Regions from separate parts of the Homo sapiens genome. Here region 2 is linked to region 1. The links come from fine-mapping of genetic effects on gene expression. Tissue or cell type: whole blood. Region 1 holds a variant in brackets; the other region holds the start of a gene. All regions are shown on one strand. Distances are between the middles of the regions.

The links. PIP is the estimated chance that this variant, and not a neighbour inherited with it, causes the effect.
Region 2: it holds the start of SEPTIN9, and the variant in region 1 is fine-mapped to the expression of SEPTIN9 in whole blood (INTERVAL, PIP above 0.99). The same link has a PIP of 0.9 or more in monocytes.

Annotation. Positions count from the first base shown.
Region 1 is chr17:77,454,715-77,462,210 of GRCh38, forward strand. All of the region lies in intron 3 of SEPTIN9 (septin 9), which reads left to right. LOC105371903 (a long non-coding RNA gene) reads right to left here and starts at 6,178. Exons shown (of 3, transcript XR_934990.3): 1 at 6,133-6,178; 2 at 5,609-5,668; 3 at 1,824-5,507. RefSeq lists enhancers at 1-564, 565-1,471, 2,121-2,734, 2,735-3,349, 2,774-2,853 and 4 more. The variant C/G (reference allele first, on the strand shown) is at 2,817.
Region 2 is chr17:77,277,884-77,285,379 of GRCh38, forward strand. SEPTIN9 (septin 9) reads left to right here and starts at 3,616. Exons shown (of 12, transcript NM_001113491.2): 1 at 3,616-3,671. The coding sequence starts at 3,653. SEPTIN9-DT (SEPTIN9 divergent transcript) reads right to left here and starts at 4,014. Exons shown (of 3, transcript NR_136503.1): 1 at 3,729-4,014. RefSeq lists an enhancer at 1,698-2,345 and a silencer at 3,947-4,110.

The DNA.
Region 1 (7,496 bases):
TTCATCAACCCTGGGAATCGCACACTGCCCACCCCACCGGGCCCCGGAGCGGGTGCAGGAAGAGAGAGCTTAACACCCAGAGGTCTGGGCCTTCTGCAGGCGCCTGAGCTGCTGTGGCCTGAGCTGGGTTCCCTGCTGGAACCATCACAGTAGACCTAATGATCTGCCTGCAGGAGTTGCTTCATCCCAGCCGACTCCGGGGCTGCGGGAAGGGGCTGGGCCTTGGTTTTGCTGGGGGTGGGGGGTCAGTGCAAAGGGCCTGAAAAGTGGCAGAGGTGATGGCCCATCTGTCCTCCCCCTGGCCGGCCGGCCTAAACGCGATTGGCTCTCTTTCTTTTTTTTTTTTCCCTCCCTTTTCCCTATAAATAACACTAAATGCGATTTGTCAATGCATTCATTTGGGTTCAGTAGTTGGACCATGGGCAGAAGCACTCCAGATTTGTCACTTTCCCTAAGCTAAGGGTGGGGAACACCCTCTGTGAGATCTTGGCTCCTGAGCGCCCAAGACTGCTCTTGGAACCCCAACTCTGGGTCGGTCTCAGGGGACTGACGTTGATGGAGTTGCTGACATTGACCTCCGGCCTCTGCATGGCCTTCAGGAAGGGGGCCCTTCGCTCTCTGTCCCGTCGAGCCTGGCTGGCAGCACTCCCTTCTCAGGCCTGTGCCCCCGGCAGGGCCTGCTGCCCCCGCCCTGCTCTGTGGGTGCCAGGCTCCAAGCACCAGGTGACTCGGTCACTGAATGGTCACTGAACAGTCATCCTTGCTGGTGTCCCCAGTGGAATGTGCATGGACGTCCTCCCTCCCCCAGATCCTTGTCTTTTATCTCTCAGCCTTTGTTCCAGGGGCCACCACAGGACCAGGAGGTACGCAGACGTGGGTGGCACATCCACTGGGCAGATTCAGCCCTGAACCTGCACGCCCCCTCCAAGGGGGCCCCCAGCGGGCGGGGTTGATGGTGCCGTCTCTCTCTCTGTCACTAGAACGGACATGAGGATTGTGTCTTGTCGATCCACGTCCTGAGTTCCCAGACGTCATAGGTGCTTGCTCAACGAGTGTTTGAATGAATGGTCAGCATTGTGTGACCGCAGATTTTCAACTTTTATCCAAATAGTTTGTGGTTTCTGTGAGGCTATCCCGAGACAGTCTCACAAGAATCTCCATTCTCCCTGCACGCTCCGCACAAGGTCTCCTTGGGGGGTTTTTCAGAAAAAGGGCCAAAGAGCAGCATTTCCTCGGGGATTTGAACACGATCTCCCCCGGGGCAGGGGACTGCCCTGGAAGATTCCCGGCACCGCTTCCCATGCGCCACGTGACTAGGAGGGTCTTGGGGCAGGATGGTGTCTTTTGTGCCTTGTGTGCTGGGGCCGGAGGAAACACTGCCCGTGGCCGGTGTCATCTGCCAGCCCTGAAGACTAATGATGGGCTGGACAGTGGCCCCATTGAGTGGGAGGGAGAATCGCTGCTGTCTGTAGCTGGGGGGCCGGGTGGGTGGGAGCCGAGGCCAGGGAGAACAGCGCAGACCTGGCACGGAGAGGCCTGGAGGAGGAGCAGGGGGTCTCAGCCACCCAGGGTGCAGGGACGCCACACGAGGAGCAGGTGTGGTGTGCGTCCTCCTGCGGGTTCTCCACCTCTTGGCTTCGTTACCTGCACTAGGCTTTGTGGTGAGAGGGCACAGAGTGGAGGAAGGTGCCGTGGCTAGGGCAGGCCACACGCTGTGCTAATGGATTGCTGTTACCTGTCGCCTCTGTGGTTTTGCTGTCAGGATCCTCCAGCACCAGGTCCCCACCACCAGGTATGGGCCCCACAGGCACTACTGGCTCCCCGAAGCCAGGGACAGACCCCATAGACAATACTGAGTCCCTGCAGCCAGGGATGGGCCCCCACGGCCAGTACCAGATCTCAGGGACCAGCACCGGGTACCCACAGCCAGGGACAGGCCTCCATGGCCAGTACCAGGTCTCAGGGACCAGCACCGGGTACCCACAGCCAGGGACGGGCCCCCATGGCCAGTACCAGATCTCAGGGACCAGCACCGGGTACCCACAGCCAGGGACGGGTCCCCATGGCCAGTACCAGGTCTCAGGGACCAGCGCTGGGTCCCCACAGCCAAGGACAAGTCCCCACGGCCAATACCAGATCCCAGTGACCAGCACTAGATGTCCACAGCCAGAGATGGGCCCCTATGGCCAGTACCAGGTCTCAGGGACCAGCGCTGGGACCCTGGATGACTGAAGGAGGGCACGGTTGACTAAAGCTGCAGGAGCCAGCCTGGCCATCCTGAGGCACTAAGCCATCACTGCGGTCTCAGGGGACTCAGACTCCTCTACTTGTCTTCTTGAATTCTGGAATCAGACACACCTGGGTCCAGCCTTTGCCCCCGGGGCTGTGTGCCTGGGATGGTTGCCTCACCTCCCTGAAGCTCAGTGAGATGGGGACGGCTGCACAGGGCCCGGCACAGATGGCACCCGATGGCACAGGGTCACCTGCTTGCATCCATACAGCCTCGGCCCTCGCTCTGGCTGCGTACCGAGAGTCCCATGCCCAGACCTCTGCTGAGTCTCCAAGCTCCTGGTCATGCCTCAGGCCTCCCGTGAGAAGCATCACTGCATGGACCATGCCTCGGGACCTCACCTTGGGCTGGGAAGCTTGCTCCATCTCCCCAAGTCTCCCCTAGAGGCGCCCCATGTCCCATCACTCTCACTGCTTGAGGGGTCAGATAGGGGAACCCAGTGTGGGAGGCCCAGAGGTGCCGGAGCAGACGTTAAGCGAGTTCCGTGTTTATGCGCTGGGCCTTGGCAGACACCCTGAATGAGCCT[C/G]TTCCCCAGGAAGGAGATTGGGGTCCCAGTCCAAGTTGTGGCCTCAAACCCTGTGACCAAGAGTGGAGAAAAGGCAAGACCCCTCCTCCCAGTCTTCCAGAACAGCCGATAGTGGTGGAAACATGGGGTTCACACTGAATTTCCTTGTAACTTGTTGAAGAGAATTTAGCCCACATTTTCAGGGGTGGAGGTCTGGCCGATTTGGCAGTGTGCCCGTCCCCCTGGCCACAGTTTACTCTGGACCGGGCACCCTGGTGCCCTCCCTCAGTGACGCAGTGAAGTCACTATGACGTGTTTAGTTGGTGAGAAAGTGCCTCCTGTAATGTTTTACTCTTCTTAGAGGGTGAATAAGCCTTGTTTATTATAAATAATTATTTACAGAATACATGAGGTTTAACCTAACTCTGGGCCACGGCAGCGTCCCCTGGGTAAACCCACGCGCCACCCTAGCTAGAGCCTGTGCCCCCACAGGCTTCCTGGACTCACCCTGAAGGGGGGCTGGATTTTCTGCCTGTCCCGATGAGAGGGCTGCAGGACAGTCCCCAGCGAGCCCTTCTGAGGGCTGTAACCTCTTCCCCTGGTATTTTCCTGCTCGCCAGGAATGTTTCAAGCTTCCAGCAGAAGCCTACCCACCATAGTCGCTTTCCACCCTGCTCACCATCCCTCCTGCCCTCACTCATTCAGCAGACCCCGTGCACAGCCCAGTGCAGGACTCAGGGTGGGAAGGTGTCCCGGGTGGGCTGGAGCAAGGTTCCCAGCCAGGGCGGGGTCCCAAGGTGGGTCCACAGCCAGGACTGTGATTTGGGAGGCCCCTCCCTGCCTTGTTCCAGCCCCGGCACCGCCGCTGTCCTTGTGCTCAGTGGAGACTCACTGGCTCCAGGCTCTAAAACCTCAGCGAGGTCTGCAGACAGGGAGGAGCCCCACTCGAGGGTAGAGTGACTGCCGGGTCCATTTGCCTGTTACGAACCACGTGGCCTCAGACCTGCCATTCCTCCTCTCCTAGAGCTATGGTCTTTTGTCTGAAAAATGGATAATGATGGTTACCATGTCAGGGACCATTTTGAGGACAAACGGGGATGAAACTGAAGAGGCTCAGCACGGAACCTGGACACAGAAGTGCTAATTGTGTGTTACCAGCTGCGGTGGCTGCCAAGGCCCAACCACATGGCAGCCACGGGCTGAGTGGCGGGCGGGAAGTGGGGAGCAGGAGCATGCAAGATGGGCATTCCTGAAGTTTCTGATCCAGTGAGATAAGTACACACCCAGCTCTAAGATGGAGTGTCCCAGGAAGGTGGAGACTGCAAAGGCCTTGTGGCGCAGGAGTGTGAGCTGCACCTCTGGGCTCTCTAGAATTTCACCAGAGCTCAGGGAGGAGGTCAGCTCAGATATAGGGGCAACGGGAGAGATGGGAGTGAGAAAATGGCTTGGCGTCTGGAAGTGGAGCCTGGAAAGGTGGGCGTGGGGACAGAGGAGGGCCTTGGGGGCCATGGGCCCATGCGTCCAGGAGGTGGAGGCAGTGAACGGGGCCACGGTCGGCCCCACACGTGGCACCACCAGCCCTGCTGAGCCTGCACCTGCTCCTCAGGCCCCCTGAGTGCCACTACCACCTGGCACCCCTTGGTCTGATTCCTGCTTCCTGCCCGCCTGGGAAGAGTGAGACCACTTGCCTAAAGTCCCTTAGCTGTCCTTAACCATTCTGGCTGCCTCCTGGCCCTGTCCAGGGTTAGCCGTTGACCTGAACTGCCTGGTGCCACCTCCCCAGACTCCTGGGGCCTTGCCCTGGCACCAACAGCCACCTCCATCTTCATCATTCACTCGCACATTCACCCAGCAGTGCTTTTTGGGCATCCACTCAGCAATATCAAGGCGCTGAGATGCGGCTGTGGTTAAGACCCGGGCCCGGTCTGTGAGGACCTCGCAGTTGCCATTTCCCCAGAGCACAGCCCCAGCCAGGCACACTGTGGGGTCCAGAAAGAGAAACTAATACATTGTGTTCGTCCATTTTGAGTTGCTATAAGGAATAGCCGAGGCTGGGGGGTTATTTGACTCACGGTTCTGCAGGCTGTACAAGTGGTGCCAGCATCTGCTTGGCTTCTGGGGAGGCCCCAGGAAGCTTTTCCTCATGGTAGAAGGTGAAGGGGGAGCTGGCACGTCACATGGCGAGAGAGAGAACTCCCAGACTCTTTTTTTTTTTGAAATGGAGTCTCGCTGTGTCAGCCAGGCTGGAGTGCAGTGGCACAATCCTCGGCTCACTGCAACCTCAGCCTCCTGAGTAGCTGGGATTACAGGCGCATGCCACCGCGCCCGGCTAATTTTTTTGTATTTTTACTAGAGATGGGGTTTCACCATGTTGGTCGGGCTGGTCCCAAACTCCTAACCTTGTGATCCACCCACCTTGGCCTCCCAAAGTGCTGGGATTACAGGTGTGAGCCACCTCACCCAGCCCTCCCAGACTCTATAGCAATCAGATCTCCCGGACTTTGTGACCGTGGGGAGGGCACCAAACCATCCATGAGGGATCCACCCCCATGACCCAAGCCCCACCCCCCCCAGGCCTTACCTCCAACATCAGGGATCACATTTCAGCATGAGATTTGGAGGGGACAACGTCCAAACCATATCACACGTGACCTCTCTGTGCGTGCGTCAGTTTCTACATCTGGTTAAGCAGTAGAAGCTCCTTCTCTGTTCCTTGTTGAGAGAGCGGTGGGGGAGAAATGACTCAGGGATGGGAGGCTGGTCCCCCGAGGGGCCCTGGTGTTTGTGGAGTGGGAGTGCGGGAAGGCCCCTACGTTGTGTGTGCCGTGCTGGGCTGGCTCCTCACAGCTCACCGTGGTGCTCCCCGAGGACTGCTGGGGAGGAAAGAGCTAATTAACTTGGGGACCCAGCTGCTGAAGTTATCATTAAACTTGAGCAGTCCAGGGGCCCCTCTCCTTCTGGGTCCTATGTCACCCAGCACAGTGGGGCTTAATTGAATTTTTTCTCATCCCCCAAGGCTCCTGGCTGGCGTGGCTGGGGTTTGGGATACGGGGAGCGAGAGGGCTTGGGCCTCTTCCAGATTTGGAGTGGGTTCACCAGAAATGGCCCAGGAAACCGCGGGGGCCACCCCCAGCAGCTGGGGGCTCCTGTGGTCATTTCCTCTTGGTCCTGTTGAGCAGCCCTGGCCCCTGGAGCCCTCAGCAAGGGATGTGGGGGCCTGCCAGGCCAGGGTCCTCACTGCTGCCGCTATGCACAGCTGCATCTTGCATCCGGGGAGTGGGGTGCCGAGTGGGGTGTTTGGGAGGCAGGTTTTCCCTTGTCCCTTCTGCCCAGAGACCTTGGGGATGAGTTGAGTGAGACCCTTCCGGCTTCTGACTGGCTGTGTTTCTGTTGCCATCCCCCACTCCTTTTAAGTGGAGGTTTATGACTTCCTTCTTTATTTAAAAGGGTCATTTAGTGACTTAGCAGATCCCAGTCTGTGTTACCCAGGGCCCTTTTAAAAATCTGTGGGGAGGCTGGGCTTGGTGGCTCACACCTCTAATCCCAGCACTTTGGGAGGCTGAGGCGGGTGGATCACCTGAAGTCAGGAGTTCGAGACCAGCCTGGCCAACATGGAGAAACCCTACCTCTAGTAAAAATACAAAAAATTGGCTGGGTGTGGTGGCACGTGCCTGTAATCCCAGTTACTCGGGAGGCTGAGGCAGGAGAATCACTCAAATCCAGGAGGCGGAGGTTGCAGTGAGCCGAGATCACACCACTGCACTCCAGCCTGGACGACAGAGTGAGACTCTGTCTCAAAAAAATAAAAATAAATAAATAAAAATAAAAATCCATGGGGGGACCTCTGTGTCCATTGGCTGGTGTGAGGAGAGGGTGAGGAGCTGCAGAGAAGGTACCAGGCTGAGGACCGCCCCCACCCTTGGGCTACAGAATTGAAGGAGGGGACACATGAAAGATGTTCCTAGACTCGGGCTGGAGGCTGGGGACATCCGAGGGCAAGGACGACGCTGTCCCTGCTCTTGTTTGCAGAGGAGTGCACAGGGCTCACCAGCTTCTTGTTGCTGTTTAAGTGATAGCTTTATGGAGATAGAATTCACATACTGTGACGTTGACCTTTTTAAAATCTACAGTTCAATGGTTTTGCTGTATTCACAAAGTGATTGTATTAGGGTCATCCAGAGAAACAGAACCAATAGAAGGTGTGTACGTGTGTTTAGATAAAGAGATTTATTATTATGAGGAGTTGGCTCACCTCATTACAGAGGTTGGCAAGTGCCAAGATTGGCAGAGTAAATCAGCAGGCTGGAGACACGGGAGAGCCCATGTTGCGGCTCTGGTGTCCACCTGAAGGCCCAAGACCCAGGAGAGCCAATGGCGTCGTTCCAGTCCCGAGACCCAGGAAAAGCGCATGTGTCAGTTTGAGTCTGAAGCAGGAAAAATCTGATGTTCCAGGTTGAAGGCGGTTAAGCGGGAAGAATTCTCTCTCACTCAGGCCTTGTGTCCTCCTATTCAGACCTTCAGGCCTTTGTCACAAAATTACAAAGACCTGATCAGAACAAAATCTGAGAAAAAACCCTTTCCTTCTATCGGTTTTGGATTCATTGGCTGGGACCCTGGAAATTAGACTGACAGAGATTAACAGGAAACAAGCATAACAATTCAAGTAAGTTTTACTTGACACCGAGCCTTCATAAGGAAATG
Region 2 (7,496 bases), 180 kb before region 1:
GCTTTCTAATCACCACACCAGCTGTGTGAGTTGGGGGTTGGGTACTGCCCTCCCCTTTCATAGGAGTGGGCACTGAGAATTGGGGAAATTACACAACTGGTCATAAGCACTCAATTAGGAGGAGGAGGAGGAGGAGGAACAGAGTGTTTGAAAGACAATTTTTAAAAATTGGATAGCACAGTAGCCTGGGGACATTTGCGAAGGAGTAAGATGGCGGCGTGTGCGTTGATAACCGTTCAAGGTGCCATCGTGACGGTCCTGAGCCAGGAGGGAAAGAGTCATATGTTTGCTATGCTCTTCTCACCAAGGCAGGGGATTGTGTCATATGTTTTAGAGAGTTGTCTGTGAAAAACAATTAAAACTTGATGCTTAGGCCGGGTGTGGTGGCTCATGCCTGTAATCCCAGCACTTTGGGAGGCCAAGGCAGGCAGATCACTTGAGGTCAGGAGTTGGAGACCAGCCTGGCTAACGTGGTGAAACCCCATCTCTACTAAAAATACAAAAATTAATCGGGCCTGGTGGCAGCAGGCACCTGTAATCCCAGCTACTTGGGAGGCTGAGGCAGGAGAATCGCTTGAATGTGGGAGGCAGAGGTTGCAGTGAGCCAAGATCATGCCATTAAACTCCAACCTGGGTGACAAGAGCAAAACTCCATCTCAAAAAATAAAAATTAAATTAAAAAAATAAAAAAAAAATAGGCCAGGCGCAGTGGCTCACACCTGTAATCCCAGCACTTTGGGAGGCCTAGGCAGGTGGATCACCTTGAGGTCAGGAGTTGGAGACCAGGCTGGCCAACATGGCAAAACCCCGTCTCTACTAAAAATACAAAAATTAGCCGGTTGTGGTGGCGTGTGCCTGTAATCCCAGCTACTTGGGAGGCTGAGGCAAGAGAATTGCTTGAATCCGGGAGGTGGACGTTGTAGTGAGCTGAGATCATGCCACTGCACTCTAGCCTGGGTGACAGAGGGAGACTCTGTCTCATAAATAAATAAATAAACCAGGTGCGGTGGCTCACACCTGTAATCCCAGCACTTTGGGAGGCTGAGGCGGGGGGATCACCTCAGGTTAGGAGTTTGAGACCAGCCTGGCCAACATGGTGAAACCCTGTCTCTACTAAAAAAGAAAAAAATTACAAAAAAAAAAAAATTAGCCAGGTGTGGCGGGCACCTGTAATCTCAGCTACTCAAGAGGCTGAGGCTGGAGAATCACTTGAACCTGGGAGGCAGAGGTTGCAGTGAGCTGAGATCGCACCATTGCACTCCAGCCTCGGCGACGAGGGCAAAACTCCCTCTCAAAAAATAAAAAATAAAAATAAATAAATAAAAACAAAATTTGAGGCTTAAACAATTAAGCTTCGTGCATCTCTTTAATTTTTCTTTTTTTTTTTTAACTCTAATTTCATGACAGATTAAGCTTCATGCATCTCAAAAATGTGTAGAACCCTCATTCCCAGCCTTCCCTCCCTCTCTCTTGTCCTTCTTTCTGATTTCTTGGAATCGGAAGGAAAATTCGGATATCCAGGAACCATCACACAGGAGGCACCCATGTGATGTGTCCAACATCACTCCACGCAGGTGTCCTTGGGTCCTGGGTGCCCAGGTTCCTGTGAATTGTGACCCCAGGCAGAAGCGTGAGCATCCGCAGAGGAACCCACCTACCCAAAGCCAGGGAACAGCCAGGGCTGGCATCCTCAGGGTGACTGTGCTCCAGGGCACCTCTGACTTGTGCTGAGTAAAATGGACAAAGCCAGCAATGCACCCATAACCCAGATTCTTGAGACACCGCTGGACTTTGGGAATCCCAGGCATTAGGCTCGTGGCAGTGTCATCATGGCTAGGCTGGGGGCAGTGTCATCATGGTGCTTGCTGGCCAAGTCAGGACACGGCCTAAGCCGGAATCTGCTGGTGCTGGTACAAGCGGTGAGTGGGCGTGTGGGTGGGGGTTGCGGTTAGGGTGTGGACATCCCAGAATCCAGGACGCTGTTCACAATTCGTCCATACTCCCTGCTCCCCTCCCTTACAGCACTTCCCTCCCGAGGCCTCCTGAGCCTCTAACCCCCAGATAAGGAAAGGGGTGGACTCAGTTGAAGTCCAGTGTCCACTCCGGTCCAATCAGCTCTACCTGGGGTGAGGGGAAACTCCTCTGGCTGGGCTGCTCCCTCTGCAGGGCTGTGGCTGGACAGATTACTCAAGAAAGGAAGCAGGTGGGCCGGAACGAACCCACGGTGCCACATAGGCCTCCGTTCTCATGCATATAAGTTTCCCACACTCAGGCAGGAAATGAAAATGCTTCTTGGACCCCCAAGGAGAGTAAAGGAGAGGGGAAGAGGAGGAGGATTTTTCGGGGCTGTTAGTGACACTTTCAGCCTCCTGTGCATTTTTGGGAGGGCTGCAGGAGAAGGCAATGCTGCGCCCCTACCCAGAACTAGCGAGCGCTTCCCAACTGGCCTCCCGCCTTCCTCTCGTCCTCTACGGCCTCCATTGGCAGCTGTGCAAGGGCCCGGCCCTGCCTCTGTCTCTCCACACTCGCTGTGATACCTCAGGCCTCCCAGGCTCCGCCACGCCCTTCCCTCTTTCGGGAACAGCTGCCTTCCATCACCTTGGCTGCCTGGCTAATTCCTGCTCATTCCTTAAAACCCTGTTTTGATTTCGCCTCAATAAAACTCTGACACCACCCTCCAGTCATAATTAGTCACTTCTTCCTCTGTACGTTGGAAACACCGCTTTATCGTGGAGACTTTAAGGATATCCAAGTAGAGAGAATTCTTCCGTGCAAGTTTTGCATCCTCTCACCACTGCCTGCGTTACCCGAGTTGTAAAGGGCGGCTCCCTGTGTCTGCCCCGCTGCACCGATACACCGAGCTGCGCACGGTGCCCAGCGCAGGGAGAACAAATGATCATCTGTCCAACGCGCCCATTTACAGGTGAGGAAACTAAGGCTCCAACTCAATCGACGCACTCTGCCCTTTTGATTACCAGAAAAGTAGCAGGACAGGTGTCCTGTCCCGCCCTACCCCGGCCCACTAAGCCGGCACCCCGGCTCCGACCCCCGGCTGTGCCCGGCGCCGCCGCGGTGCCCGGCGCCGCCGCCTCGCCCGGCGGGGCCGCCCGGAGCGCCCGCACCTCCGCCCGCTTCCACCTGGCCGGGCCCGCCCCGCCCGGACTCGGGACTGGGAAGTGCGGCGACTCCCGGAACCAGCCATTGGCGCCAGCGCGGGGAGCTGGGGGTGCAGAGCTGCGGGCGCGGCGGGCCACGCAGGCGGCCCCCACCCCCGGCCTGGCCTGGTCTGGTCTGGTCTGCGCTGCCGCGCGGGGGCGCCCCCTCCCAGGCCCGGCGCCCGCCAGCCCCGCTCCGCCAGGTGCAGCGCAGCGCAGGGGTGGGCGGGGGTGGGGCTCGGCGCGCACGTTCACGGGGCGGGGAGGGGGCGGGTCAGGGGCGGGACCACAGCCGGCTGGGCCGGGGTTCTATGCGCATCTCCGGGGAGGGGCGGGGCGGGGGCGGGGCCGGGGCGGGGCCCGGTCGGTGCACTCCAGACGGCGGGCCGCCCCCTCTTCCCGCCTTCCTACTACCGGCCCAGGATTAGCGCCCTGGGAGCGCGCGCCCCGCTGCCTCGCCGCCACACTTTCCTGGGAGCGGCGGCCACGGAGGCACCATGAAGAAGTCTTACTCAGGTGGGCTTCGCGCCCGGGGTGGGGAGGGGTCGGTGTCCCGGGACCAGCGCTGCTCACCTGAGTGCCTGCGGCCGGGAGTGGCGAGGCGCCCCCGGAGCTGAGCGAGTCCCCGCGGCGGGCACACTGCAGGTCGAGTTCCTCCCAGGACAGGGCCGCTGTCGGGCCGCTTTCGACCTGAGCCGACCGTCCCCTGCGCTGTCTCCAGCCCTTGCTCGAGTGTCGGAGGGGCTGCCCTGGGGGACGCTCCCTCTTCCTCGCCCCTTGCACCCTCGCAGGAATCGCTGACTTTCCAGGTCGGCCGGGTGCTTTGGGTCCCTGTGCGTCTGTGTGGGTGAATGGGGTCGGGGCTAGGTGGAGGGGTGTCCTTGGGTTCAGCCTCTAGGGCTGGTGGTCCAGGCCGCAGCATCCTTTCTTCGGATTCTCTTCGGTTTCTCCTCTACTTAGTGGGGCACGGGACGGCCTCCAGATGGGACCGTCCAGCAGCGCCCAAACTTGGCGACTCGGGTTCACGTTTTGCGCTCAGGACGCCGCCCGCGGCTGACATCCTCACTCCACCCTAGCAGGGCCCGCCTTAAGTAGGCGAAGGGGGCCTGACTTGGGCCTCACCATGAGCCGGTTCAGGAGCTTTCATTTCATAAGAGGCTCCCGCTCTGGCACTCTGAAGTTCCATTTCACAGATGGGCACACCGAGGCCACAAGGGCAGGTTAAGAGAAATCCAGATCTTCATTATTTGTCTTTTCCTTCCTTTTTTTTTTCCTTTGTGGTTTTCTCCAAAGGATCCAGGCAGGCAGGATCCTTTGTCCTCCTCAGTCCTCAAATTATAAATAGCGTCTCCTCTTCTAAATCTAGAAACCGTTTGTTTAATGTCCCTCCTTTAATTCATTCAGATAGAAAGGTACCTGCCAAGGATCCATGAATTAATTTTTATTGATAGGAGAACAGAATCATGGGCCTTAGTTGGAGGTGAAGGAGTCATCGGGGCCATCCCCCTGCCTTTGGGCCATTGTCGGTTTCCTCTGGCTTTCCATATTTAGGAACCAAAATGAGTGATAAAGTACCTTGTCTCAAAGAGGATTACTCAGAACTTCCCCGAAAATACCCTTCTGGGTCAGTAGCTTAGAATTTCAACTTTCACCCGGTTGTTGCGAACAAGATGGCCCTCTACGCACCCGGAGCACAGCTCTGTCAGGAGCGTGGGTGGGTTGGTGTGCTGGTGGGCGGGAGCGGGCTTCCAGGTGGCACATGCTTGGTTTTGGCACCGGGGCTTCCTCCCCAACATGCTCCAAATACTTGAGATTGTTGTGGGGATCGCGCGGTGCATGGCCCTTTCCAGGGGATCTCTAGCCCGCCCAGGGAGGGCCCTTTGCCCTTGGTTTCTTACACTTTACCTCCCACTGGTGGGTCCAGACAGTGGGGGTGACCGGGGTCCTCCCAGGTCGTGGGTCCTGGGTTTTTTCTGCGGAGACCCTCCTGCACAGATGCCGGAAGGGCCCTGAGGCAGGCTTGGAGTCTCTGCACCTGCGGCTTACTGGGAGGTGGGGAGACCATCACTTGTCCTTTTCTCCTCTCCTCCACACACACCTACCCCACCCCTCACTGGGTTTCTTTTTTTTTTTTTTTTTTAAAAAAAAGGACAGAACCTTTTGCAGTAGGTGGAAGTAGAGTTTGTGGAGTGAGCAGGAACCAACTCTTGTACAGCAGCCTCGGTGCCTCCTTGTGTTTACCTAAAGGGGCAGGCCCCTCTGAGGATGGGGGAAGGGAGGGCTCAGACCATTTCTGGTTTGCTCCCTGCTTGGCAGTGGCCCAAGGTGTGCTGGGTCACTGTGTTGCAGTTGTATGGAGTGGGACTGGAGGGGGCTGATGGTGGGGGTGGCCTCTTGCCCTCATTCTGAGTGTCCTGGAGCTGTCTTGGCACCAGCCCTTTTCCGGGTACGGGCACTCGCAGGAGTCAGGCTGACCCCCCAACAAGCCATCGACACCATGAAATTAAGGAAAGCAGCAAAAGATGTTAAAAATCCCCCAAGGCTCTGACAATCCAAGGACAACAGGAAGGTCTTTATTTTTTCATCTAGACTGTGCGGGATTATTGCTTCCAGACCTGTATGTGGGCTTCAGAATAAACGGAATGACCATAATGTTGTTCCCGGTAGACCTGGTTTGAACATTCGTGAGCCTCTGAAAAGGAGAAAGATTTTAGAAGGATGTGTTGGGGCAATCTCAAGTACCGTGGGTCTATAGACAGTCATCGAAGACACTTTATGTGCTGGGCACACATGGCCAAGTCTGAGTGGGTACAGAAATGGTAATGAGATATAGTCCTTGCCTGCAGAGAACTTACATTCTCACCGGGAGTCAGGATGAGGGCGAGACACCAGCTCATTAACACCCTTCCCTCCTGAGCAGTTCAGCCTCCAAATACTACAGGAATGCCCCGGAGGTTTTAGGTGGAGGTGAGATTGAGCTGGGCCTTGAGGAAGGAGAAGTCTTGAGTAGTGGAGAATAAAAAGGGACTTGGCCAGGTGCGCTTGAAGTCCCAGCTACTCAGGAGGCTGAGACACGAGGATCGCTTGAGCCCAGGAGGCTACTCAGGAGGCTGAGACACGAGGATCGCTTGAGCCCAGGAGGCTACTCAGGAGGCTGAGACAGGAGGATCGCTTGAAGCCAGGAGTTCAAGGCTGCAGCCCTGTGACAGCGCCTGGAAATAGACACGGCACTCCAGCCTGGGTGGCGTCATGAGACCCCATCTGTAAGAAGGTCTTTTCCAATGCGGAAGGCAGCAAGGGCCCACACAGGGCAGCTGCAGGATCCAGGGGGACACTGGGGACAGGTTCTCTCTGGCAGCTCCACTGCTGCTCCAGGCTTTCCCGATTGCCTCACCCGGCCTTCCAATGGGGTGGAGGTAGTGGTAGTCTACAGGCAGTGTGGTCCAGTGGTTACACTTGGGGGCTCAGAGCCGCCAGCCCCTTGGGATTAAATCTCACCAGGCTGCGCCTCTCCCTGTGGCACAAGGTTCTCACCTCATGCATCTCATTTGCCTCATTTGTTTTTTTGTGTGTGTGGTGTTTTTTAATTTTATTTATTTATTTATTTTTGAGACGGAGTCTCACTCTGTCTCCCAGGCTGGAGTGCAATGGCATGATCTCAGCTTACTGCAACCTCCGCCTCCCAGGTTCAAGTGATTCTCCTGCCTCAGCCTCCTGAGTGGCTGGGATTGTAGGAACGTGCCACTGCGCCCAGCTAATTTTTATATTTTTACTAGAGATGGGGTTTCACCATGTTGGTCAGGCTGATCTCGAACTCCTGACCTCGTGATCTGCCTGCCTTGGCCTCCCAAAGTGCTGTGATTACAGGCATGAGCCACCACGCCCAGCCTGCCTCATTTGTTAAATGGGACAGTGCTATGTTGTTGTAAAGGTTAAACGAGTTCATATTTGAAAAAGCTGAGAAATGCCTGCTCTGTAACCTGTTAGCTGCTGTCATGATCATGATTGTCATTGACAGGAGGATGGAGAAGGCTGGGGTTACGCCATTGCTAGGACGTTCCAGAAGCCTCCATGATCTTCCCTTACTGTGGTCAGAGCATGGTGCAGGGTCTCTCCCCCAGCCCCTCAGCACTGGAGCCAGCTGCACTGTACCCGCCCTGGCTCTCTAGGTTCTGAGTTTTGGGACTCCCTTTGCATACTAGGTCACATGGAACTTGCCGTCATTCCCAGGCTCCCCTGGAAACTCTCTGTGGGTGGCAGCGGCAGGAGGACTTACCCGAGGCCGATGAGCCACAGAAGCGGGACTGAGGTTGCGTCACACCCCTACTGGCACCTGGGAAT